Homo sapiens: one gene and its partners. The protein of the gene in region 3 interacts with the protein of the main gene of each other region in a biochemical or structural test. Each region holds a gene or a part of one and is shown on either strand. Other genes may lie near its edges. The genes, in order: PLCG2, CSF1R, FYN and BCL3.

Region 1 (7,037 bases), on a different chromosome or scaffold from region 3:
ACAAAAGCCTGTACAGCCTGCAGAACTGTGAGCCAATCAAACCTCTTTTCTTTATAAATTACCCAGTCTCAGGTATGTCTTTATAGCAGTGTGAGAACGGACTAATACAGTCTAGCTGCTGATTGACTGTTAGAATGAACTGGAATGACTGTTTGCTCCATGGCATTCCGGGAGGCTATCAGGTAGCCCCTACACTCCAATAGCATGGTTCCAGGCTGGACAGTACTATCTGACACTAGGCGTGTGCCTCTTAAATCGGAGACATGAGCTCTGCCCTCATGACCAGCTGTCTCCAGCTCTATGTACCTTCTCTCGCTGCCCAAGTCCCATTTTTATGCACTGGGCAGCCCTCCTTGTATAAAAAAAAAAAAAATAATTGTTTTTCTTCTTCTTGTTTCTAGTCATTTCACTGGGGAAAGGGAAATACAGACACCTTTTAAAGTAAGATCAATGCATCTGGCTTTGAGCACCCAGTGAGAGGGCAGCCTGCAGAGGAGGAACACGGGGTTCGAAATTAATTAGACATTCCTGGGTTTGAATCTCAGCTCTGGTCCTACAGGTGTGTGACCTTGAGCAAGTTAAGTCATAGTCTCTCGGCCTCAAAGTGCTCAGAATTTTAAAACCAAAGATAAAACCCCTTTCACAGGATTACTGTGAGGATTAAAAGAGAAAGAGTTTAAGGTACCTAACACAATAAAGGCTGCTGCTTTCCTTCCTGCGCTCCAACTGGTTTAAAAGCTTCAGTGCATCTCTAATGACAATGGGTGAAGTTTATTTTTTCAGTATGGAAGACCCTCAATGCCTCCTGTTCATTCTATTTCATTCCTCCCATGAATATGGATGTGCCAGGCACTGCTAGGAGCTAGAAAGAAGTGAGGAAAGGTCCCTGCTGAGAGTATCTCACAGTCGGGGGAGGAGAAGGTCACATTTTTAATCTCCCTTGAGGTTTTGACCTTTGTTTTTTCCAAATCTCCAAGCTAAGTCATTGCATTCTGCAGATGAATTGACACACTTTGATGCCCATTAAGGTAACGAGGTTTTATCATCAACTCTGACATCTCTGCAAGGCACTGGGAGGGGTTATGAGGCTCAAGGCCCTCATCCTTCAAGAGGACGTCGGGGTAACCAAGGGGTTTCAGCACAGCTGCCCCTCTCTGCTGGATGAGTTCAGTAGAGGAACTGGCAGGCAGTTACCATAAAAAGAAATCTGTTACAGCGTCAAGGCTAGGAACGTAAAGGTGTACCAAAAGCTACACTTCCTGCACCAGAAGAATTGGTGTCATTCCTAAGCCTTATTAGACTAATCTAAAAGAAGCAAATTAAGGAATCACAGCCCTGATCAGTGCCGGGTTTAAAGTAGTTTATAGGCCAGGCACAGTGGTTCACTCCTTTAATCCCATCACTTTTTTTCAGACCAACATGGCAAAACCCCGTCTCTACTAAAAATACAAAAATTAGCCAGATGTGGTAGTGTACACCTGTAGTCCCAGCTACTGAGGAGGCTGAGGCAGAGGTTACAGTGAGCCGAGATCACCCACTGCACTCCAGCCTGAGCGACAGAGCAAGACTCCATCTCAAAAAAAAAAAAGGGGGAGTTTACAGTGTGGGTGAGTTAACCCAGAAGGGTTGCCAAATATCAGGCCTCTTACAAATGAATACTCATTATTATTGCTAGAGTAGCAATGTTCATGAAAATGAACATTTCTAGAGTACAAAAAAAAAAAAAAATCAGAAACTTTAAACATTTTCCCAAAGTCTTGTTTCATCTAGTAACTTGCTAAGGAATTCATTTCCTCAATGGTAAGATAGGCAGCCTTGACATAGTTTGGTTCTGTCAAAGTGCCATCCAAGCACCATCTGGGGAGCTGCCTAAAGATGCAGATTCCTTGGCCCCACCCTGGGCTGACTCATCACCCTGTGGTGGGTCCAGGAACCTGCACTTTCTTCTGAGTCTTGCTCTGTCACCCAGGCTGGAGTGCAGTGGTGCAACCTCAGCCTTCCAAGTAGCTGGGATTATGATTACAGGAGTGAGCCACCGTGCCCGGCCAGCACCTGGATTTTCTAGCATGCCTGCTGCTCAGAAACTGGGCTCCTGCCCAGTAGCAGAAATGGTCAGGTTTATGATATTATACAAAAAAAGGTGGAAGTTGAGGGAATGTCTGAAAACAAAAAAGATCCAATTCAGCTCTTCATTGAGCCCCACGTTTCCAAACAATATCAAAAGACTGTATTTTTTTATGTAAGTAACTAAAATGACAGTCATCTTTCTCTTGAAAAATGATCCTCAGAAAACAAGGGAACAGTGACCTCTTGAGGAATCCAGAAGAATCTATGATCTCATATCTCATGCACCATGCATCAGAAATACTAAAGGAAGAGGAAGAAGGAAAATTCAACATCCAGCAAGGGCCTATTTGTCAAATATTATACCTAAAATCCAGTGGGAAAGATCCAGTGGGAAAGTAAACTAGAGAAACTATATAGAAGCTAAGGAGAGCCAGTTTTTTTTGTTTTTGTAAATGACTGGCTCTAGAAGCAGCAGGGTCCCAAATCCCCTCACCTGGAAGTGTCTATCTCAGCTGTGTAGGAAGGGCTCAGTCATCTGGGATTCAGCAGGGTTCTTAAGAGCTGGTCGTATGACCCAGCTTGGCTTGGTTGCAGAAAAATACAAAATGACCCTTCTTATACCATGAAGGGATCTTGTGTTTTCTTCAGCAGGGAAGAAAACTGTAACAACTCAAAGAAGTAAATTAACCCACCCAATTTTATAGAAGAAGAAGGTGAATTCTGAAGGGTTTGGGGAGTTGGACCCTCGAGATTGTTACTCCCCCCCCAAGATGCCAAAGGTCTCTCCCTTGCCACCCTCTCACACTGCCAGCCAGAGAGCAGGAGGGGGAGATCAAACCAGACTTAGCCCTAGCTAGGGAGAAGCAAACCGCATGTAATATTTCAAAATGAAATCAAACTGCAGTGCCAGGTTGAGGATCCACTAACAATCCAGTTTTGCTTGTAAACATCCCACTTTGAGGGGCATAGCCTCCCCTGTCACCCACTTCCTCCCACCTGTGTGCTACACGACAGGCTGTACACCTGCTCTCCAAGCCACCCAATCGGTTTTACAGTGATTCCATCCAAACCAGGAAAAATCATTTTTCATTCTTTTTGAAGCCAGCAGCCAAACCAAAGTACAACGCCAGCCCAAATCGAACATCTTAATTAAAATGCCTCTTACCTGATTTGACTGCTTTAATGGGGTAAGTGGCATGAGCAAGAAAGTTGGGATCGCTGAACATATCTTCTTCATAAACCACAAAGCGCAGAAATGCCAGGTTTGGGTCATAAATTTCAAATGTCACCTTCTCCTGTGTTGGAGCCCAGATAGGGCTGAGGCCATTATCATCTGGAAGGAGATCAAAGCTCATGAGAGGCCACATTGGAGCTGCCCCCTTCTGGTAAGACAATCTCCGCATCCTTCAGCTGTGAATCCCCTTAGCAACCATGTAAATAAATATGCATCTATGCCAAGATCTAAGAAAATCTGAATAATTATCTTCACTCCCCCACCCCACCTTGAGCAATCCTGGAAGCTGCTGTTGCAGGCTGGTCCCTTGGTGAGCAGAGGAAGGAGACCACCTCCCATCTCCCCGCCCCAGGATCAGGGACAAGGGAACGGGGGAGGTGTTTGTTTGCAGAGCAGGAAGGTGGATTTTGGAAAAGACAAAAGGGGAGGAGAGCCTGGGAGCCACATCCACCAGCAGGGGGTTCTACAGCTGGCAGGGGAGAGCCCAGCCTCACAGAGCAGGCAAGCAGCAATCCTGCCACTCTCCATAAATGCCAGTTTATTTGGTCAGCATCTGAGTTGTTCATTGGGCTACTTTTTACCAGGGGCAAGGATCCTGTGCTTTAGAAGGCCCACCAATCACGGTTCCCTCCTGGCTTTTCCTGGAAGAGCAAGCATTCCTCTTGTCCCTCCTGCCCTCTAGGGGCTAAGATCTCCCAGGTTAGGCTGATCCTCTGGGTCAGGTCAGCCACGTAGGTTCACCCCCTCTCTCTGTGTCTCTGCCTCTTGGCCTTTGACTCAGGAGATTAATCAGATTGGGCTGTTGCACAGAGAGGACCAACCTAGTGTCAGGGCCTCACCTACGATTCCGGACTTGAGTTACAGGCAGGCAAACAGCACTGGGGAAAGTCTAAGGATTTCAGAAAGTGGCCCTTTGTATGTATCCCCTCCTCAAGCTGAACCATGTGGGCAAGAGGGAGGAAAGAAAACCCTGGGACAACTAAAGAGCATTGCAAAATCCCCCACGAAGAGCACTCCCACAAAGGATTCACTGGCCGGACGTTTAAAAGCAGAGGGGCCAAGGTGACTGACTTACTCACAACCGTCGTCTTGAACTTGTTGTTGTCATACTCGGCTCCACAGATCTCCACTTCTACAAAGGGACAGGCAATACTTCGTCCAAGTTTGGGGAGATGGCGAGCACCGAGAACCTGGGACACCAAAGGGAAGCATTGGAACCCCCCTGGGGTCCTGAACAGGCAGCCTAGCGTGGATTGCAGCTGGGTTCTAGAGTGACACTGGATGAGTTCAATGCCAGCCCTAATTTTCCTAGATTCACTGGAAAAGCCGGAGCAACCTTCTGCAGTGGATGAAGGTGGACTGTGGTAGATCCCACAGTTCCTCAGCATCAGCCTGGGTCTCGGCCCCATATGCCACCTGACTCAACAGGTAAAACTCACCTGAGCTCATGAATGCACACATCCATGCCCAAGCAGGTGCCTCTGATCAAGGCAGAGCTTAATCACTGGATTTCCACACCCCTAGGAAAGGCTGAGGAACAGTGTGGCATTCTTTTTATAACTGCTGTTTATTTAAAGGCCTGTGTTTACGTATGCTTCTTCCCCCTACCACCCGCCCGCCCTTAACCTTAGGAGAAATGCAATTCATTTCTCTACTTTTCAAAAATTCTTACAAAGCAACAACACTTTCTCTGAAAGTCAGATGAATTTTAAAAAGCCCTGGAATTGGACAAAGTAAGGGAAAAAACTTCTCCATTAAGACCAAATGGCTGTTTCCCATGTTTTCTTTCTCTTTCCGGCCAGAGGCTGACCTCACCAGGACCCCAGAAAGATAGGGTCATACCTCACCCCCACAGAGGACAAGGGGAAGTGGGTTTGAGGAGGTTTCCCCTCTCTTCCCTCTTCTCCCAGAACGACCCCGGAGTGTACTGTAAGAAAGAAAGATCCTCAAACACTGCCTGAATGGGGATCGTTTAAACAAGACAACCAGCCTCCCTAGACATGGGTTCCCTGCTCTCAAGACAGCATCGGCCCAGCCCCCAGGGAGGGCGGCTGGCTCCCCTGGCAGGAAGGGAGGGCTGGCTTTACCTTGACTGTCAGCGTCATCAGGATCTTCCTCTGGGACTCGGGTGGCATCGGGTCATATTTCTCTGTCCTCATGCTCTCAGGCTGCAGAACGTAGCCCGTGCGCCCATTGAGAGAAAACAATGCGTGATTCATCTGCATGTACTTATCTGGGAAGGAAAGTGAACGCCTGCTGTAAGTCAGGCATGAGCACGCTGGCCCCCTAGGCCAGGAGTTTCTAGGTGGGGAATGAATTTCACCTTTTCCCCAAATTAATGTGAGGCAGCTGTTCAAATAGGTATCTCACTCAAAGAAAATATAGGGTTTCTAGACAGCAAACTCCCAGACTGGGGAACACCTTTCCAAGTATGTCACCAAATCCCGAATCATAAAAGAAAAGATTCAAACTTGCTAAAAGTGTCTATGTAGCAATAAATTGCATAGGCAATTTTAATTCAAATGACAAATATGTGAATATAAATTTTTAACCTCTTAGTTCTGATACATCTATGCTATAAATACCTACTGCAGTAGATACATCAGGTAAGAAGCACAAATAGTTCCCAGAAAAGAAAATGCCACTGCTCCCTAAATGAGGGAAAAACTGGTTAATGTCCCTTACAAGAAGAAGCTCTAATGGACGACGATGTATCAGTTTTCACCTCTCAGTTGTGCAAACGGCAAAAAGTTCAACAAAACTCAGCGAAGTCATACCAAAAGAGCGTACTCCAACCTCCACCTATTTGCATCCCCGCCCACGATCTCTATGGAGGGCAGTTTGGCAGTGTGGCTTAGCTCAGGCACGTCTTCAGTGGTTTTCCTCAGGGCAAAGTTGATCAAAATGCAAGCGCTGTTTGACCCACCCTGCCTTTCTGAGAATTCTGTCCCATAGACATATTCCTACATCTGTGGAATGGCGCTCACGTCAGGGTACAGAAGGCAGTGCTGTCTATGACAGCAAATAATGGGGAATACCTACATGTGCCTCCACGGGGACTTATTAAATAAATGATTGTTCCATTCTGTGGAATCCGATGTGGCTATAAAAAGAATGTAAAGGAGGCTACTGATGAATAGATCCCTCGAAAGAGGTCTTAAATAACAACAACAAAAGCACAAAGCCCCGTGATTTATGCGATCACTTTGTGTCCAGAAGTTTGTGTATGTTAGTTATGCCAGCATGTAAATGTCTCTGGAAGAAAGTCTGAGCAGAAAGCCCTCACACAGCAACAGGCCTGGAGAAGAGAACTCCAAAGATGCTTTAATTACATGAACTAATGCATTTTCTTTTTCTAAGCCAGACTAACTCAGCCTCTGTCACTTACTTACAATCACGAAGCCTGCGTAAGCCAAGCAGCCTTCGGTCCTCTCATCCCTCCATTCAGCTGCTGGACCTCATACTAACCATTACTCTGCTGAACCGTGCAGTCCCTCGGACAAATCACTCATTCTTGGACACCACATGGTATCGCTGACCCAAGGTGACTCGGCCTGGAGTGACTGCAACCGCCACCTTGCAGGGACGGGACTACCTTCAGTCGGCCTTTACCTGCCGTCTGGAAATTGAGTGCCACCATCTGAGAACCGCACAGCCAGAGGCGGAAGGGGTCGTAGTTTGAAGAGTCAACTCTTTGTCCCTTTGGGTAGACGCGGGTCAGGCCCTTTTGATTGTA
Region 2 (2,797 bases), on a different chromosome or scaffold from region 3:
AAGCTGAGGAGGGAGGAACAGTCAGCCACAGCTCTCTTCCAGCACTGTCCTCTCCACCCCAAGCTTTGAGGAAGAGCATCCCCTTCCTCCTTTCCCTGGCCACTGCTGCTGCAGCCAATATCCTCTCTGGGCCTGGGACCCTCTCCACAGAGGGGATGTGGTCCCTGGTCATGACATAACCTAGCAGCAGTAGGAAAAACTCCCTTCTATGAAGGGGAAGCAGACTGGGCCATAAGGAAACAGCAGGACTGGCTCAAGTGCCCAAGGTTTGTTTAGGGCCTGGGAATTGGCCATGTGTTAATTTATTGAGTGGAGTAGGTGGCTTTTTTTCCCTCCCTCTTCCCCCAACAAGAATAAAGTTTATTAAATTATCTGGTTTTGGTGTAGCAGGAGTCAATTCCGTGCACATCGTATGGGGCACAGTGTGGTCAAGCTCCACAGCTGTGAGCTCGTCACTTCATGTGAAGGAGGGAAGGAAAGAAAGACGTTCCAGGGAATTTGCAGGTACTCATGTGGCACAAAGAACCAGAGGCTGACTGCATTAATGCTGTTAGTTTAATGTGGACAGAGACATCCCACGGCGTGACTGTTAGTTAGGATGAGTCAGCTTGGGGGAGTTTGTGCTTCCTGCTTGGTGTGGCCAGCCACATGCCAAGGTCCCCTGCCTTCTAGCCCAGAATGACGGGACTGGGCAGAACACCCCCAACTTTTAGCTGCCACTTGGCTCATTACAGCAGTACCAGTATGGGGGTGGGAGGGGTGAGGCTGTGGAGTGAAGGCGGCGTATAGGGCAGAGACTAAGAGGTCCTGTGAGATTCTTAGAGGAGCCATCCTGCTCCAAGGGGCCTGAGCTGAGTGTGGTCTGTGAGCATCTGCTGCTCCTCTCAGAGAGGGAGATCTCACTCTCTGCCAGTCTGTCTAGCCCCAAAGAGCCTGGTTTTCTCAGTATCAGTGTAGCTCCTGGGGACTTCATAGGCATAAAGTCAGTCCATTTCCATGAAGATAAGGGGATTAGGAAAGAAGGTTCTACTAGTTGGCATAGCAAACACGAGGCCAACACCATGAGAACAGTAGGGGAGGGGGGGGTGAGGGCTCAGCCCCCAGCCCCTGACTGGCAGTGATGGCCCATGCTCAGGAAGTGGGATCCTCTGACCTCCCCTGAATCCCTCACCTTCCCAAGTTTCAGAGCTGGGCCGAGCTGTTGAGTGAAATGACCGAAGGCAGAGTTTGTATGTTCTCCCCGTGTCGCCCCATCCATGGAGGAGTTGAAGTTTGTGGGAGGGGAGAGTGGTACTCCCTGTCGTCAACTCCTCAGCAGAACTGATAGTTGTTGGGCTGCAGCAAGGGCTGGGCGATATCCCCTTGCTCGCAGCAGGTCAGGTGCTCACTAGAGCTCTCCTCCTCCAGCTCACTGCTGCTGCTGCCGCTGCCACCGCTTCTGCTGCTGCTCGGCAGATTGGTATAGTCCTGAGGGTGGGAGGGACCAGAAACTGTCAGTCCAGATCCATCAGGCCCAGCCCAACGTGCTTTACCGGCCACCCACCCCAAGCCTCACCCCACTCACCCGCTCTCTCCTGTCCTCTTGGGCCTGCTCCTGAAGGAAGGAGCAGATCTGCTGGAAGGTGGGTCTGTGGGTGGGCTCCAAGGCCCAGCAGGCCTGCATGATGCTGTATCTGGGAGATAGGACAGAGGATGCCCATGGGCAGCTCCCTAGGGTCCAGGGGCCATTAACACACACCCCTAGAGAGACCTACCCAGCAGAGGTCCCCAAACCCAGTCAAAGTAAGTTTAGTATAAAACCTATGCCAAGTCCTTGGCATGCTTTACCATTTAATCCTCACAGTAACCCTTGCAGAAGGGTACTCTCATCACCCTCATTCTGACAGATGAGGCCATTTTGGTATCCTCAGGGTAACTGTAATAACGATCTCTTAAAAGTCTGTTTAGGGACAGGTGCAGTGGCTCATTCCTGTAATCCCAACACTTTGGGAGGTTGATGCAGGAGGATTGCATAAGGCCAGGAGTTCCAGACCAGCCTGGACAACATAGTGAGATCCCATCTCTACTAAAAAATTTTTTAAAAATAGCTGGGCTTGGTGGTGCACACCTGTAGTCCCAGCTGTTTGGGAGGCTGAGGCCAAAGGATTGCTTGAGCCCTGAAGATTGAGGCTGCAGTGAGCTATGATTGCACACATCACTGCGCTCCAGCCCGGGCTACAGAGCAAGATGCTGTCTCAAAAAAAAAAAAAAAAAAAAAGGAAAAGTGGTCGGTTAGGACCAGCCCTAGTGAACAGCTGCTTCTCTGAGAACATCCCCCATAGCTTGAACTCAAAAGGGGCTTGTTGTGTCCACTATGGGAGAGATAAAGTCTGACCCTGGAACATTTTGGACAGGGAAAGATCAGGGCCACACGGCCTTCCATCCCTTTCCAGCGAAAGCCTGGGGTGTCCTTTTCCCTCCCTGGGATCCCTTCGCTTACATATTCTTTGGGGCAAATGCAGGCTGGGCCATTTGGTATCCATCCTTCACCAGTTTATAGAACTTGCTGTTCACCAGGATGCCAGGGTAGGGATTCAGCCCTGCAAAGGCCAAGATCAGGTAAGAGGCCATGCCCATTGTCTTCTCCCCATTCCCGCACACCCACACACATCTTAGACTGGGTTTAAAGGGTCCCACTTGACAACACTGCAACAGCAGCTACTCTTACCCGGTGCTTCCTGTGTGCCAGCCAGTGTGTGGCAGGCTTAGGCTTTAGGAAGGTGTGAGCCTCTATCCAGGCCTTATCACACCAAACATT
Region 3 (7,037 bases):
GTTTATTTGCCTTTTCAGTAGAATTTAAATTGGGCAGGATTTCACAGAAATACAGATTCAGTAACTTTCTGGGGATTAAAAGAAGAAAGGATTGGGAAAAGTGCCCTGGGCTTTGTTGTGGGAAAGGAGATCTGGCTCATTTTTAATTTTCCATTAAAGCCCTACTTTTCAATATAAAGCAGATGGAATCCTTATACAACTCCATGAAAAGCCTACTATTTTTGGATACCTCAAAGATGGAAGCTCTGAAGAAAATGAAAGTGTTTGACTTCATCAGATAAAATCCCACCAGCATATTCAAAAGGCACAGGTACTTAGAAACCTTTAAATTACAAGTTAAGAGGTCTTTCTGTGCGGATTTATGATCCCGGGCCCCTCTCAAGCTTCGGCACTCTCTGACTCTTGCTGACTGATGGTTTCTACCACTTCTCCGCCTGCTCCCACTACTCTAGTTGGGACTCCCTATGTTTGCTTCCTTCCTTGTCTTCCAGAGCTGCCTGCTGACTCTTCCCTTCTCACTGTTGTTCCCAGATACAGAAAAGATGAGAAGCGTTCAGCCCTGCCTGGCCCATACCCACTGAATCCAAATGAGGCCTGGGGATATGCATTCTATGAGATCTTCAGCATATTTGTGCTCTTTTCTTATTATGCGATAAGACCTGGTTCAATATATTCTGTTTGTCACTCTGCTGGGGTGGACAGGAGAACAAAAGGGCTGATGTTTACTGTGCAGAGTCTGTGAGATACTAGGCTGGGAGCTGCTGGGCACCACCTCCACCCTCACAGTTTACAATCTCATTAAAGAGATGGCGCAAATTTAGTGTGAAGAACATAGATGTTGGAGCCAGACTGCTGTGTTCAGATCCCAGCTCTGTCACTTACTCTGTGACGCTGACTAAATCACTTAGCCTCTGTGACTCAGTTTTTCCATCTTTTAAATGGGATAATAATGGTAGTACCTCCTAGAATTGTGCTGGGTGTTATGTTGACAAATCAATCATAAAATAGAGTCCCTGACTTCCAAAGAGCTCACAAGTCGGTGGGAAAGGCCAGTGCCTGCCCCACTGTCCTACCCAGCTGGTTCCCTCAGCCTTACGAATCAGGCTATGATGAGGATGATGATGAGGTGGTAATCAGGTGCTCTGGGAGCCCAGAGGTAAGAGAGATGGGAGGGCTTCTCAAGAGGCAGTAGGTTTTGAGGGGAGTCATCAGAAAGGGTGAGACTTCCACGGTGGGTAAAGGTGCCTCTGCATCCTGCAACACAGGACACAGAAGTAACTGCAAAGCAAAGGCAAGGAGGCAGGGAATGAGGAACCACAGCTCTGGAGCAAAAGCAGGAAAGAGTTTAGCAGTCACACAGACCTGGCTTCACTAGTTATTAGCTGTGTGACCATGAGCCATTTGCCTCTCTGAGCTTCAGTCTCCCCATTTGACTAATGGGTATAATAATACATGCCTCCTAGAGTTGCTATGATTAAGTACATGACTGTATGTAAGCACCTAACACATGCCTCCGAGTTCAATAAAATGGCAGGTGCTATTATTTCTATGGTGTATTCAGGGAGGAGTAGGTAGCTGTGGTATGCTCTCTACTTTTTTGCAGTATCACAGAAAGGAGAATACAAGGCCAGAAACAAGTAGTCCTCTAAAAAAGCTTTCTGAGTGCAAATAAGCAATGAGCTAGGACTTTCCCATGGTACTTTTTTCTCCCCCAAACTCTTACAGTTAATAGGTACTCAATACATATTTGCCTAAACCAACCAAGTGCTGCTCGAGGTCATGGGTTTACAAGGGCAGAGTATGTGATGATCTCTGCTTCCTAAGTATACCCAAGAAGGAGACCCAAGTCAGGCTTCACTTCCAGACGGAGGTGCACAGCAGGCTGTTCTGGAAGCAGGCTGAGACAAATGGGAAAGCGCTCTCAACCAAATATTACAACAACTCGGAGTCTTACAAACATTGTTAAAGTTTCATGAGTCAGTAAGCATTATCTTTTCCTCCCACGTTTTTATTAGACCATAAATCCAATTCAATTTATATTCTTCCAGGATTACTGCGTTCTAATCAAGTCCACAGTGTCACTTATTCCTAAGTTGTCTATATTGCATGTCACCCAAGTCCATTTGGATAATACCATTCAGGCTTCTCATGTGTTTTAGTAGCTAAAAATTAGATTTGCTCAACTAGAAACACTAAAAAAATTATTATAGTCCTCTAAATAACACAAATCACTCTTTTTTCATAGGAGCCAAATGTGTGAAAGTCATAACCCATAGTTTTTTCTTACTTTATAGTTCATTCTACCTTTAGAAAAGTCACAATGACATTCTGAAGTCAAACTCGAGGGATTTCCATTGTAAATAGGTTAAAATTCTGGTTATCTGACTAAAAGAAACCCTTTTACAGGGTTAACGTCAGAATGCTTTCATGTTTTCCGTTCTCAAGAATGAAGGTGCTGCATTTCTTACTAAAAATGCTGTTTTCAATCATACCATGTAAGTAAATTTCCCAACTTTTCTAACAATTTTTGATTCAGAACCGACAATCACCCAAATCTCTTTCTAAAATATTCAAAGTTTCCTTACATACACACAATATATTGTCATCATCCCTTCCCTAAAGCATGTATGTCATATGTGTATATATACACATACACACATACATATGGATTAACAACAGCAGCAAACACATAGCTTTTCCTATGTGTAGGACACTGTTCTGAATATTTGACATGTATTAACTCACTGAATCCTCACAGCAACCCTCTGAGGCAGGAACTACTATCTCCATTTAAAGATGAAGAAAAGGAGTCACAGAGAGACCAGGTAACTTGGCCCAGCCCACACAGCTGGAAAGGGTCAAACCCGGACCCTACCCCAACCTCATGCTTTTGTTTTGTTTTCTTTTGTTTTGAGACAGAGCCTCACTCTCTCGCCCAGGATGGAATGCAGTGGCACAATCTCAGCTCACTGCAACCTCTGCCTCCCAGGCTCAAGCGATTCGCCTGCCTCAGGCTCCCAAGTAGCTGGGATTACAGGCCTGTGCCACCACACCGGGCTAATTTTTGTATTTTTAGTAGAGACAAGGTTTCGCCGTGTTGGCCAGGCTGGTCTTGAACTCCTGACCTCAGGTGATCCACCTGCCTTGGCTTCCCAAAGTGCTGGGATTACAGGCGTGAGCCCCCGTGCCCGGCCCCAACCCCATGCTCTTAACCACACCACACACCTGGGCTGAGAGGTGTGAAACCTGGTGACTTTGCCATCTTGGACAAGTTGCTTAACCTCTTCATTTAACTTCATTTTTCCTCACGAGTAAAATGAACATGTTGACTACATGATCTCTAAGATTCCATGGCCTGTGCCCATGAAAAACCGCAAGAGTCCTTCATGGTTGTATGTTCTACAGGCTTTGATATGTGTTTTTACCCTGGCTGGGGAGCAACAGATTTCTAGACTTCTCCCCCTCTAGTTCTCCTGATGCTGCTTTGGGCAGGTTCAGATATCTTCAGTGCTAAATCCAACTGCATTTTTTGTTCTTTATGTTGCTCAACTCTGAAGCTGGTCTAGTACTCCGCAGGCTCCTCTCCCATTCTGGGCCTGACTCCTCCTCTGTTCCTGGGCTTGCTCTCTGCCCTTTCTGCTCTTTCTACTCCACACATTCTCCCTGGGTGACCTCACCCACATCCATGGCTTCAATTTTTGTAATTTGTTTGCTAACGAATTTATATTCAAGACCTAGTCCTGGCTGGGAGCAGTGGCTCATGCCTATTATCTCAGCACTTTGGGAAGCTGAGGTAGGTAGATCCCCTGCAATCAGAAGTTCGAGACCAGCCTGGCCAACGTGGCGAAACCCCAATAATTAGCCGGGTGTGGCGTTGGGTGCCTGTAATCCCAGCTACTCGGGAGGCTGAGGCAGGAGAATCGCTTGAACCTGGGAGGTGGAGGTTGCAGTGAGCTGAGATCACGCCATTGCACTCTAGCCTGGGCAACAAGAGCGAAACTCCGTCTCGGGAAAAAAAAAAAAAAAAAAAAAAAAGACCTAGTCCTCTTCCCTCACTCCAGACCTCTCTATTTACCTGCCTATGAGCTACTACACCTGGAAGTCTAAAGTGTTTAAGATAAAGTCATCGCTTAGATACCTGCCCCCTGCTTTCCTTATTGGACTGCTTGTCTCTACCTAATTTCCCAGAGAAATTCTTTTCTACCTACCCCTACACCCTGTCTACTGCTCTCTAATTCTTTTTTGCTCCATCTGCACCTCCTTTCCTTCCATTTAGACCCTCATCTACTACTCATTTAAGTTTCCATAACTACCTTCCCTGCATTAGTTCTGCCTGCCCTCGGTCAAAGGCCCATACTGTGGCCAGATCTTTATAAAAATACAATCACATCAAAGCCACATCTCCACTTACAACTCTTAAATGGCACTCAGGATAAAGTACGTACAAGAATCTTTCTCAGTTTCTCCTTCAGCTCTGTCATTTCCCTTTGTCCATCTCTGTACCACTCCAAACAGCCCTGAACTAACTGCAGTTCCCCAAAAGGTCTGTGCATTCGCCCTCTGGGCTGTTCTTTCTGGGACAGGGAGCTTCCCACAACACTCACCTAGCCATCTCTACTCATCTTGCCTTCAGACCCCTCCTCTTCCAGCCTTCTCTGCTTGGCTATCCCACTTGCCCACCTCTTTTCCAGGTTCATGCTCCATTCTGCACACTCTCTGCCATCCTACATGGACCCCTAAAATCCCAGCATTTCTAACATTGGTCAGAGACTCCTTTATAGCTCTGCAAAACTAGCAAGTAAGTTCCTTCGGGACAGGATCACATCTCTTTTGCCTTGAACCATCGAATTAATTGTCTGGCAAATAGAATACGCAATGAATGAATGCTGTTAAATGAGTAAGTATGTAGACAATTCATAAACTTATACAGACCTAATTGTGTACCACAGAAAGACCCAGCTTTAAATAATCACACAGAGTAAAATTATTTCCAGTATCGACATGCCTTGCTTTACCATTGTTTAATTTAATTTTGTATTTCCCAGGTAAGTAGTAGATAAGTGTCTGAATGGAAGGAGGGTAGGGATGAATATTGTATTTCTATTTGGCTATAAAATTATATTTCTCATCAACCAAAAGTCTTAGTTTCTAAAGCATTTCAGTCACCCTCCCTTATGGCACATAACGTATTTTAATATCATCATTATATGTAGTATTTTGAATATTACCTAGTGGCTAAGGGCAAAGGCTTTGGAACCAAACTAATTGGACCTGAATCCTGACTCTACCACTTAGTAGCTGTATGATCTTGAATTAGTTACTTAACAAGCTACTAAAGTTTGCTTCAATTTCCCATCTGTAAAACGGAGATTATAAGTGAAACCACTTCATATTATTATTGTTAAGATCGGAGCTTAAACAGTGCTTGGCATATAGTAAATGCTCAACAAATGTTAACAATTATTAATTATTTTTATCTCTTCTAGTAGACCGTGAACTTCTGAAAAGCAAGGACAGCAGAAGTATTCATTTCCAGGACCTCATCTCCCCAGTGCCTTGCACAAAGTAACATACTAGGCTAATGTCTGCAGAACAGATGAATATAATGAAGTATTCATGGCAAAAAAAAGTGCATTAACAATTATGATGGCTGGTATGAATGGAATTGCTCCAACAATTTGGAAGCCTGTGGAGAACAGGGACTACCCAGAACACTAGAACCCTGCTCATGGAGATTTGGAAGCTCACTTAACCTCCGTGGAATATGCAAGACTCACAGACAAAGAGGGCAGCTGAGTGACAGAGGAGACCCATGTGGGCCTGAAGAGCTGGCTGGCTGAGCCTCCTGCCCTTCCGTTAAGAAGCTGCAAGGCCTTGGGGCAAGGAGTTTCACCTCTCAGGCTAATTAATTTCCTCTTCCAATTAAGAGGGAGTGGGACTGTGATTTCTGTTTTTCTTTTTGAGATAGGGTCTCACTCTGGAGCCCAGGCTAGAGTACAGTGGTATGACCTCAGCTCACTGCAGTCTCTACCTCCCAGGCTCAAGTGATCCTCCCACCTCAGCCTCTTGAGTAGCTGGGACCACAGATGCATGCTACCATGCCTGGATAGTTTTTAAAAGATTTTTCGTGGAGACGAGGTCTCACTATGTTGCCCAGGCTGATAACAAACTCTTGGGCTAAAGTGATCCACCCACCTCAGCCTCCCAAAGTGCTGGGATTACAGGCGTGAGCTGCAACATCCAGAAGGAGTGTGATTTCTAAGGACTCTCCTAGCAACTTTGGGAGTCTACAGAATGACCAGATGAAAAATGAAGCCAAGAAAGGTGCTTTTGGAGTAAAAGAACCACATCAAAGTCAACACAGGAAGCATCAGATGATTGTATCACATGGGATTATTGAGTAGGAATTGGCAACATTTGAAACATAAAATTTGAAACATGACAAAAAGTAAGATTTTTGAAACATGCTTAGGATGAAAAGATCTAAACTTATAAAATCAAAAGAAAAGCAATGACGGGTGTCCGCTCTAGGTTTCTATTTAATTCCCATTAGCCTATAAGTTTCTTGAGGGCAGTGAATGTGCCTTGATAAGTGGCAGTGTTTGACAAAGCTGTTCAATAAAAATACATTTATTCTGTATCTTTTTTCTGAGCACATGGCTAAACTACATTTCCCAGGCTCCCTTGCAATTAAATGTGGCCATATAACTAGCCCTCAAGTAAAGAATGTGAGAGGAAGTGATGGTGGCACTTCCAGGCTAAGGTATTTTAAAAGTGGGTGTGCCCCGTCTACTCTCTGTTGCCCCTTCTGTAAACTGAAACAGGTTACGATGATAAGCTATGGGATGGTGGAGCTACAAGATAGGGGTGTGGGACCCAGAGTCACTGCATGGAGGAAAGCCACCTACCGACCAGAAACATGAATTTTTGACTATTAAATGAGCAAGAATAAACGTCTATTGCTTTTGAGCCATTATATATTTGCAGGCCTATTTGTTACACCTGCTAACATTAGCCTAATTGATACAGGTGTTGAG
Region 4 (7,037 bases), on a different chromosome or scaffold from region 3:
TTCAAGTGAGTCTCATGCCACAGCCTCCCGAGTAGCTGAGACTACAGGTGCCCACTGCCAAGCCTGGCTAATTTTTGTATTTTTTGGTAGAGACAGGGTTTCACCATGTTGGCCAGGTTGGTCTCAAACTCCTGACCTCAAGTGATCCACTCGCCTTGGCCTCCCAAAGTGCTGGGATTACAGGCATGAGCCCCAAGCCCACCCCTAGAACACTATTTTTGGAACGGTGGTCTTTAGATATTTTGTCACAACCTAAAAACAAGAAAGACAGTTCATTGATTAACTTACTATATGAATTATACATGTAAAACTATCACTGGACCTGGCATAAATGTTGAGTAAGTGTTTGTTAATATTACTATTATTTTATCTCAAACCCAGCACACACACACACACACACACACACACACACAAACTTGAAATTAAAATTGCACAAAATGAAACAATACTCGCCCTTACTATGTGGGTTCTACTGTGACATTTTCTTTTTTTCTTTTTTTCTTTTTCTTTTTTTTTTTTCTGAGACAGGGTCTCGATCTGTCACCCAGGCTGGAGTGCAGTGGTGCAATCATAGCTCACTGCAGCCTTGATCTCTTGGGCTCAAATGATCCTCCCACCTCAGCCTCCTGAGTAGCTGGGACCACAGACGCTACCCCCACACCTGGCTAATTTTTGTATTTTTTTTTTGTAGAAACACAGCAGTCTTGCTATGTTGCCCAGACTGGTCTCAAACTCCTGGGCTTAAGTGATCCTCCCACCTCAGCCTCCCAAAGTGCTGAGATTACAGATGTGAGCCACCGAGCCCAGCTTACAGCTTTACTTTGCCATTTTCTATTCTAGTCGACTTCATTGTTTCATGGTCACAGCCCACTACATTAATTTGAAGATCCCCTAAATTGATTTCACAACCCCCATGGTTTATCACCTGCAGTCTGAAGAACATGTTTGTGAGGCTGCTGAGAAGTCCTGCACGGGAGGGTTTGGTCTGTGCCTAGCACATAGTAAGCACTCACTGCAATTGATCATCATGATTCTTATTATTCTATTGACCTGGGTTGGAATCTCAGCGTGGCCACGTTCTACTCCCTCTGTGCCTCAGTTTCCCTCTCTGTAAAAACAGGAACCATCGCGTGTGAGGGTCTCTGGGAGGAAGAAATGACATGATTTATACAAAGCACTTCTGTGAGAATTAGTTTGGGGCCTGGAAACCACAGGTAGAGATGAACAGGCCTGTTTCTGCAGAGAAGTAGCAGAGGGCTGCTCCGCCACTGGCCCACTGAGTGATTTCATGTCCCTGAGTCTCAGTTTCCCTATTTGGAAACTGGGTCTCATAATAGCACCTATCACAATTAGGATTCAGTGAGATCTTGTACACATGTATTAATACAGTGCACAGAACAGGGCTGGGCAAACAGTAAGTGCTCAATGCATGGAAATGGGTAATGTTTGAGCAGAGCTCCCAGGGTGGTTGCAGGCCATCTCCAGAGCCCTAGCAGGAGAAAGTGGCCTAGATTATAAAGAGCTAATAAAACCTAGTTCCCTCCCCTTCTGGGTACCTCTGGGGGGTCATCTATGAAATGGGCTTAATCAGACAGTCTCTGCCCCCAGTGGTGAGCTGTCCATGCTGTTGAAAAGCAGGGTGCTTGCCAGAGGCCACCCGGCCCACCAGTCTCCAGCCCCAGGCCCTCCCCACACCCTCCCTCTCCGACTCTCCCCCAAGGCAAACACTTCTGCCTCAGCTGCCTGCTGGGGGAAATCCCTTCCCGCAGAACTTGACCGCAACCCAGCTGCTCTGCCTCCCCCACGTCAGCACCCGTCACTCACTCGCAGCCTCCCCCCTCCTGGCGCTTCCTCCAACCTTAACCCCTTCCGCTGGGGCTGAGACTTTACCGGAACGGGCAGCGGCCCGGCCCCAGCCTGCGCCACCGGCTCCTCTTCACACCCGCGGGGGAGGGCAGTGGGGGCGAGGAGGGCGGGGGACGCTAAGTCTGGGTCCCCGCAGAAGCCAAAAGGTTGGGAGGCTGGGCTTCCATCTCCTCACAGGCGGGTACGAGCCTTGGGGCATTTGGACCCCCAAGAGGTTAGGGACTGGGCAGCCAGAAACCTGGGGAGGGGGCAGGAAGGCGGGGGCGGGGGGGGGGGGTGATGTTCTGATTCTCAGAAGGCAGAAGTTGGGGAACTGTATTCCTTAATCTCCGAGGGGATGAGGAGCAGCTTGGCAGCTTGGGGACCTGGCACTCAGAGGGGCTTTACGGGCAGGACCAGATACAGAAATTTGCAGAGTCCCTTGTTCAAAACTTAAGAATTTCACGACAGCGGCAGCAGGACGTTGGGCTGGTGAAACTGGTCACGCCAAGGGGCCTGAAAGTCTGTGTTCCCAAAGGGCCAGGGTTTGAGGCGCTGTATTTCTGGGTCTCTGAGGGGACAAGGACTGGCAAGGTAGTTTGGGATCCTGGAGCTCTGAAGGACGGGGGAAGTCCTTATTCTTAAAGAAGAGTTAGGGCTATTTCTGGCTCCCAAGAGATGTTGGGGGTGGATGCCGGGATAAGGAGGACTTGCAGCCAGCTGGAGCCTGAGCTCTGCGGGGTGGAGTTCCAGAGGGTCCCCCAGGCGGGAGGACTCGGGATTATGCGCCCCCCCTACACACACACACCTCAAGGGAGCTAGGTCTTCTTGGGCTGGGCACTCCCTTCCCCCGCCCCATTCGAGGATGGAAGTTGGGGTGCCAGGGGTGGCCAGGGTAGATCCCCGGCGGGACAGGCTTCCCTCCCCCGGGAGCAGGAAGCAGAGCCCCGCCCAGCAGACCTGTTACTGGAAGTCCGAGGGCTGGGTCGCCCCTCCCGTCCCCACTTCCTCCAGCCCCGCCCCACCCCCTGCGGCCCGCGCGTTTATGGGAACTCAGGCCTGGACGGTTTCTCTGAAATCATTCGCTGCGTCTGCCCTCACTTAACCCTGGCCGCCCCGAGAGGGACCCAGGCCAGGCGTCCTGGGAGATGCAGAGAAGGGGGGACCCTTCCCAGGGACCCCGGCCCCTCCCTCAACATTTTATTTTTAAATTTGGCTTTCACGGATTAGGAGTCAGGTTCAGCGATTCACCTGCGTGATCTCACCCTGGCATGTGGACGCTGTACTTTACATAAGAGAAAACTGAGGCTCCGAAAGGCCCCCATGGCTTTGCCCTAGCACGCGGCTACGCTAGGAGGGGTTGTGGCCCAATTTGCAACTCTGGCCCCGGGATTTCTGCACTCCATCAGAACCACCTGGGAGGCTAGTTTAAACTGGATTCTAGAGACACATTCCACAAGAGAAACGGGTGCTGGTGAGAAAGGAATTACTTAGTAAACTTTAAATAAAGATCCTGCCACCCACTGTGTACACGCAGTCCTCCTTGGGTCCTCCACTCTGTCCCCCACCCCATGCAAACAGCACAGGCGTGCACAAGCACGCACGCATGCACACACACCAGTCTCTGAATAGCTGTTCTAGGTTGGGGTCTCTGGAAACTGAGCAGGAAGTTTATTGGAAATGCTCTCCATCAACACCTGTGGGATGAAGGAAGCCCATCTGGGCAGAGGGAGAAGTTGAGCTGCTGTGTCGCCTCCACACGGCCTCAGCTGTCCCACAGGGAATATTGAAGCTGGAATGGCCTTCAGCATTGGGGTCAGGAGGCTAGGCCTTCTATGCTGGCATTAACCAGTGACTGGATGCCATTGAAGGGCAGCTGCCCTTGATTCACATGGGGCGTGACCTTGGACAAGCAGCTCTCTTGAGTTGAGGGTAATTCCCAAATGGTCTGAAAGCTGACAATCTTCCCAGAAGCTGAGGGAGTGAGTCCTTCAGTCTAGAAGGGGGTTCTGGACTGTACCGCCTCCAGAACAATGGCCCCATCCCAGTTTGTCCTCACCTCCCTTTTAGTCAAAACTTTTGTTCCAGACTGGGCGTGGTGGCTCACGCCTGTAATCCCAGCACTTTGGGAGGCTGAGGCTGAGGCAGGAGGATCACTTGAACCCAGCAGTTAGAGACCAGCCTGGCCAACATGGTGAAACCATGTCTCTACTAAAAATACAAAAGTTAGCTGGGCGCGATGGCACACATCTGTAATCCCAGCTACTCAGGAGGCTGAGGTTGGATGATCGCTTGAACCTGGGAGGCAGAGATTGCAGTGAGCACAAGATAGCACCACTGCACTCCAGCCTGGGCGATAGAACAACACTCCGTCTCAAACAAATAAAATAAAATAAAATAAAAGGGTCCCTCTGGCTGTTGTGTGGGGGACAGACAGTAGAGCATAGGTGGAAGCAGAGAAGCCATGAGGATGGAACTGTACTAGACCAGCAGGGAGCCAGTGGTGGCTAAAGCAGGATGGAGGGAGCGGGTGGTAAATCAGGATGGAGGGAGTGGGTGGGGAGAAGTGTTTGAATACTGGGGACATTTCCAAAGTATTCAACACATTGGAGTTAGCATTGCCAACAGCATGAGGGTGAGAGGTGAACAACCCCTAATGCCTGTGATTCCTTCACTCCCCCACCCCCAGGCCTCTCCATATTGCTGTGGTGCAGGGTAACCTGCCAGCTGTGCACCGGCTGGTCAACCTCTTCCAGCAGGGGGGCCGGGAGCTCGACATCTACAACAACCTACGGCAGGTGAGGCTCGGTCTGAGGGAGGAGGGCTGGGGCCTGGACTCCTGGGTCTGACAGAGGAGGGGCTGGGGGCCTGAACTCCTGGGTCTGAGGGAGGGGGGCTGGGGCCTGGACCCCTGGGTCTGAGGGAGGAGGGACTGGTGCCTGGACTCCTGGGTCTGATGGAGGAGGGCTGCGGGCCTGGGATCCGGGGTCTGATGGAGGAGGGCTGGGTCCTGGGCTCCTGAGTCTGAGGGAGGAGGGCTGGGGATCTGGACTCCTGGGTCTGAGGGAGGAGGGCTGGGGGTCTGGACTCCTGGGTCTGAGGGAGGAGGGCTGGGGTCTGGACTCTAAGTAGCGAGGTGCTCCAGGCTCCTGGTTCCTGGGGAAGAAGGGCTCTGGGGCCTCGGACTGGTTGTTCCTGAGAGGGAGGGGGCCTAAAGACCTCCTAGTGAGGAGGGAGGGGGCTGGGGACCCAGAATTCAGGTACTAGGGAAAGAGGAGGTTGGAGGCCCAGTCTTCTGGGTCCTGGGGAAGGAGGAGCATGGGGCCCGGACTCTTGAATCTGAGACAGGAGGTGTCTCAGGTTTCTGTTCCTGGGGAAGACTGCAGGATGAGGAATAAGGGTTCAGAAAACCTGGGGGAGGCAGGACTAGAGAGCAGGGCTGGACACAGGTCCCTCACAGTCACTGTTCCCCAGACACCGCTCCACCTGGCTGTGATCACCACATTACCGTCTGTGGTCCGGCTCCTGGTGACAGCTGGTGCCAGCCCCATGGCGCTGGACCGCCATGGCCAGACGGCCGCTCACCTGGCGTGCGAGCACCGCAGCCCGACCTGCCTGCGAGCCCTGCTGGACAGCGCAGCTCCGGGCACGTTGGACCTGGAGGCCCGCAATTATGACGGTAAGCATTTACCGCGGGGCACCGCTGGGCTGTCCAGCGGACCTGGAGTCCATCAGCGGCCGCAAAGCCCGGGCCTAGGTTTCACCGAGCCCTCCTCTCCCTCAGGGCTCACCGCCCTGCACGTGGCAGTGAACACCGAGTGCCAAGAAACCGTGCAGCTCTTGCTAGAGCGCGGTGCCGACATCGACGCAGTGGTGAGCGTGCACTAGGAGCTGGGAGGGAGCGGGGCCTTAGCAGGGGCGGGGTCTTGGCGGGGGCGGGGCCAGTGTGGGGCTGGCGTGGGAGAGCACCCGGGTGGGGTGGGGCTTGGAGTATCAGACCCAAGAGAGAGGCTGGACCCCGCGAATGGGATGTGGACGGGATGCGGGTCGCCGGCTGCTGGAGCAGAGCTTGGAGAAACTAAGACCTTCCCTCCCCGCCGCAGGACATTAAGAGCGGCCGCTCCCCGCTCATCCACGCCGTGGAAAACAACAGCCTTAGCATGGTGCAGCTGCTGCTGCAGGTGCGTACAGCCCCCCTGAGCCTCGCGCCCACCCTATCCTCTGACCCCAACCCGGCTCTGGCCTCAGCCCCTAGCTCTGACCCCGCCTTCCACTTCTGGCTCCGGCTCCTGCTCCGCGTCCAGCTCTGATCCTTTAAGGCCTAGTTTTCTCGACCCTCGGGCTCCACGCCCCTGGCTACGAACTTGTCCCATTCCTCCTCTGCCACCTCAACGGCCTAGGCCCCGCCCTGCGATGGCCTGGCTGACCCCGCCTTCCAGCTAGGCCCTGTCCACGCATTGTCCTTCCCCCCTCCAGCTCCCCCGACTCCTTGGGGCGCGGGCCTCGGTGTCCAGCTCCGGTTAATTCATCGCCGCCAACGCAGTCCCGCTTGGCCTGCCCTTGGCTCTCGCTCCTACCTTCCTGTGACCCCACCCCGATCCGGTGCCGCCCCACGTGCCGGCCACCCACCCGGGCCTCCAGCCTCTGTTCCCTTACCCCGGGTGGCCCGCGCGCCCTCCTGACCCGGCCCTCCCGTCCCGCAGCACGGCGCCAACGTGAACGCGCAAATGTACTCCGGCAGCTCCGCCCTGCACTCAGCGTCCGGCCGCGGGCTCCTCCCGCTGGTGCGCACGCTGGTCCGCAGCGGCGCTGACAGCAGCCTCAAGAACTGCCACAACGACACGCCGCTCATGGTGGCGCGCAGCCGCAGGGTGAGCCGGGGCAGCTGTGGACATGCCCCTTGCACACGTGTGTCCGCGGGCTGGTTGCAGGCGAGTGTGCCAGAGCGCAGAGGAGTGAGGGTGTCTGTGCCGTTGCGTGGAGGGGAGTGGGTGAGCCTCTGAAAGCGCGGGTGTGAGTTCCAGAAATGAGGAGAGACTGGCACCAAGAAAAAAAGTGCCTTGCCCATCTTTTCATACTGAGAAGTGGAGAGGCCACCACCTGGATCCAGTGAGCTAGGAGGGATGGGAGAGAGGACTGTGAGGCATGGGTGGCTCTATGGTCACGCCCATCTTCCTACAGGTCATCGACAT

Evidence for each region.
Region 1: the proteins of FYN (region 3) and PLCG2 form a complex in vitro, tested with the Homo sapiens proteins (one study listed by BioGRID).
Region 2: the proteins of FYN (region 3) and CSF1R form a complex in vitro, tested with the Homo sapiens proteins (one study listed by BioGRID).
Region 4: the proteins of FYN (region 3) and BCL3 form a complex in vitro, tested with the Homo sapiens proteins (one study listed by BioGRID).

The regions. Positions count from the first base shown.
Region 1 is NC_000016.10:81,936,255-81,943,291, reverse strand, and holds part of PLCG2 (1-phosphatidylinositol 4,5-bisphosphate phosphodiesterase gamma-2), read right to left. Parts: coding exon 6,914-7,037; intron 5,535-6,913; coding exon 5,389-5,534; intron 4,492-5,388; coding exon 4,377-4,491; intron 3,401-4,376; coding exon 3,233-3,400; intron 1-3,232. UniProt on the Homo sapiens protein: The production of the second messenger molecules diacylglycerol (DAG) and inositol 1,4,5-trisphosphate (IP3) is mediated by activated phosphatidylinositol-specific phospholipase C enzymes. It is a crucial enzyme in transmembrane signaling.
Region 2 is NC_000005.10:150,052,758-150,055,554, forward strand, and holds the end of CSF1R (macrophage colony-stimulating factor 1 receptor isoform a precursor), read right to left. Parts: intron 2,580-2,797; coding exon 2,480-2,579; intron 1,674-2,479; coding exon 1,565-1,673; intron 1,468-1,564; coding exon 1,312-1,467; 3' UTR 538-1,311; downstream 1-537. UniProt on the Homo sapiens protein: Tyrosine-protein kinase that acts as a cell-surface receptor for CSF1 and IL34 and plays an essential role in the regulation of survival, proliferation and differentiation of hematopoietic precursor cells, especially mononuclear phagocytes, such as macrophages and monocytes.
Region 3 is NC_000006.12:111,863,448-111,870,484, forward strand, and holds part of FYN (tyrosine-protein kinase Fyn), read right to left. Parts: intron 1-7,037. UniProt on the Homo sapiens protein: Non-receptor tyrosine-protein kinase that plays a role in many biological processes including regulation of cell growth and survival, cell adhesion, integrin-mediated signaling, cytoskeletal remodeling, cell motility, immune response and axon guidance.
Region 4 is NC_000019.10:44,751,698-44,758,734, forward strand, and holds part of BCL3 (B-cell lymphoma 3 protein), read left to right. Parts: intron 1-4,534; coding exon 4,535-4,643; intron 4,644-5,319; coding exon 5,320-5,524; intron 5,525-5,629; coding exon 5,630-5,718; intron 5,719-5,948; coding exon 5,949-6,026; intron 6,027-6,548; coding exon 6,549-6,716; coding exon of another isoform or gene 6,717-6,848; exon of another isoform or gene 6,849-7,024; intron 7,025-7,026; coding exon 7,027-7,037. UniProt on the Homo sapiens protein: Contributes to the regulation of transcriptional activation of NF-kappa-B target genes. In the cytoplasm, inhibits the nuclear translocation of the NF-kappa-B p50 subunit.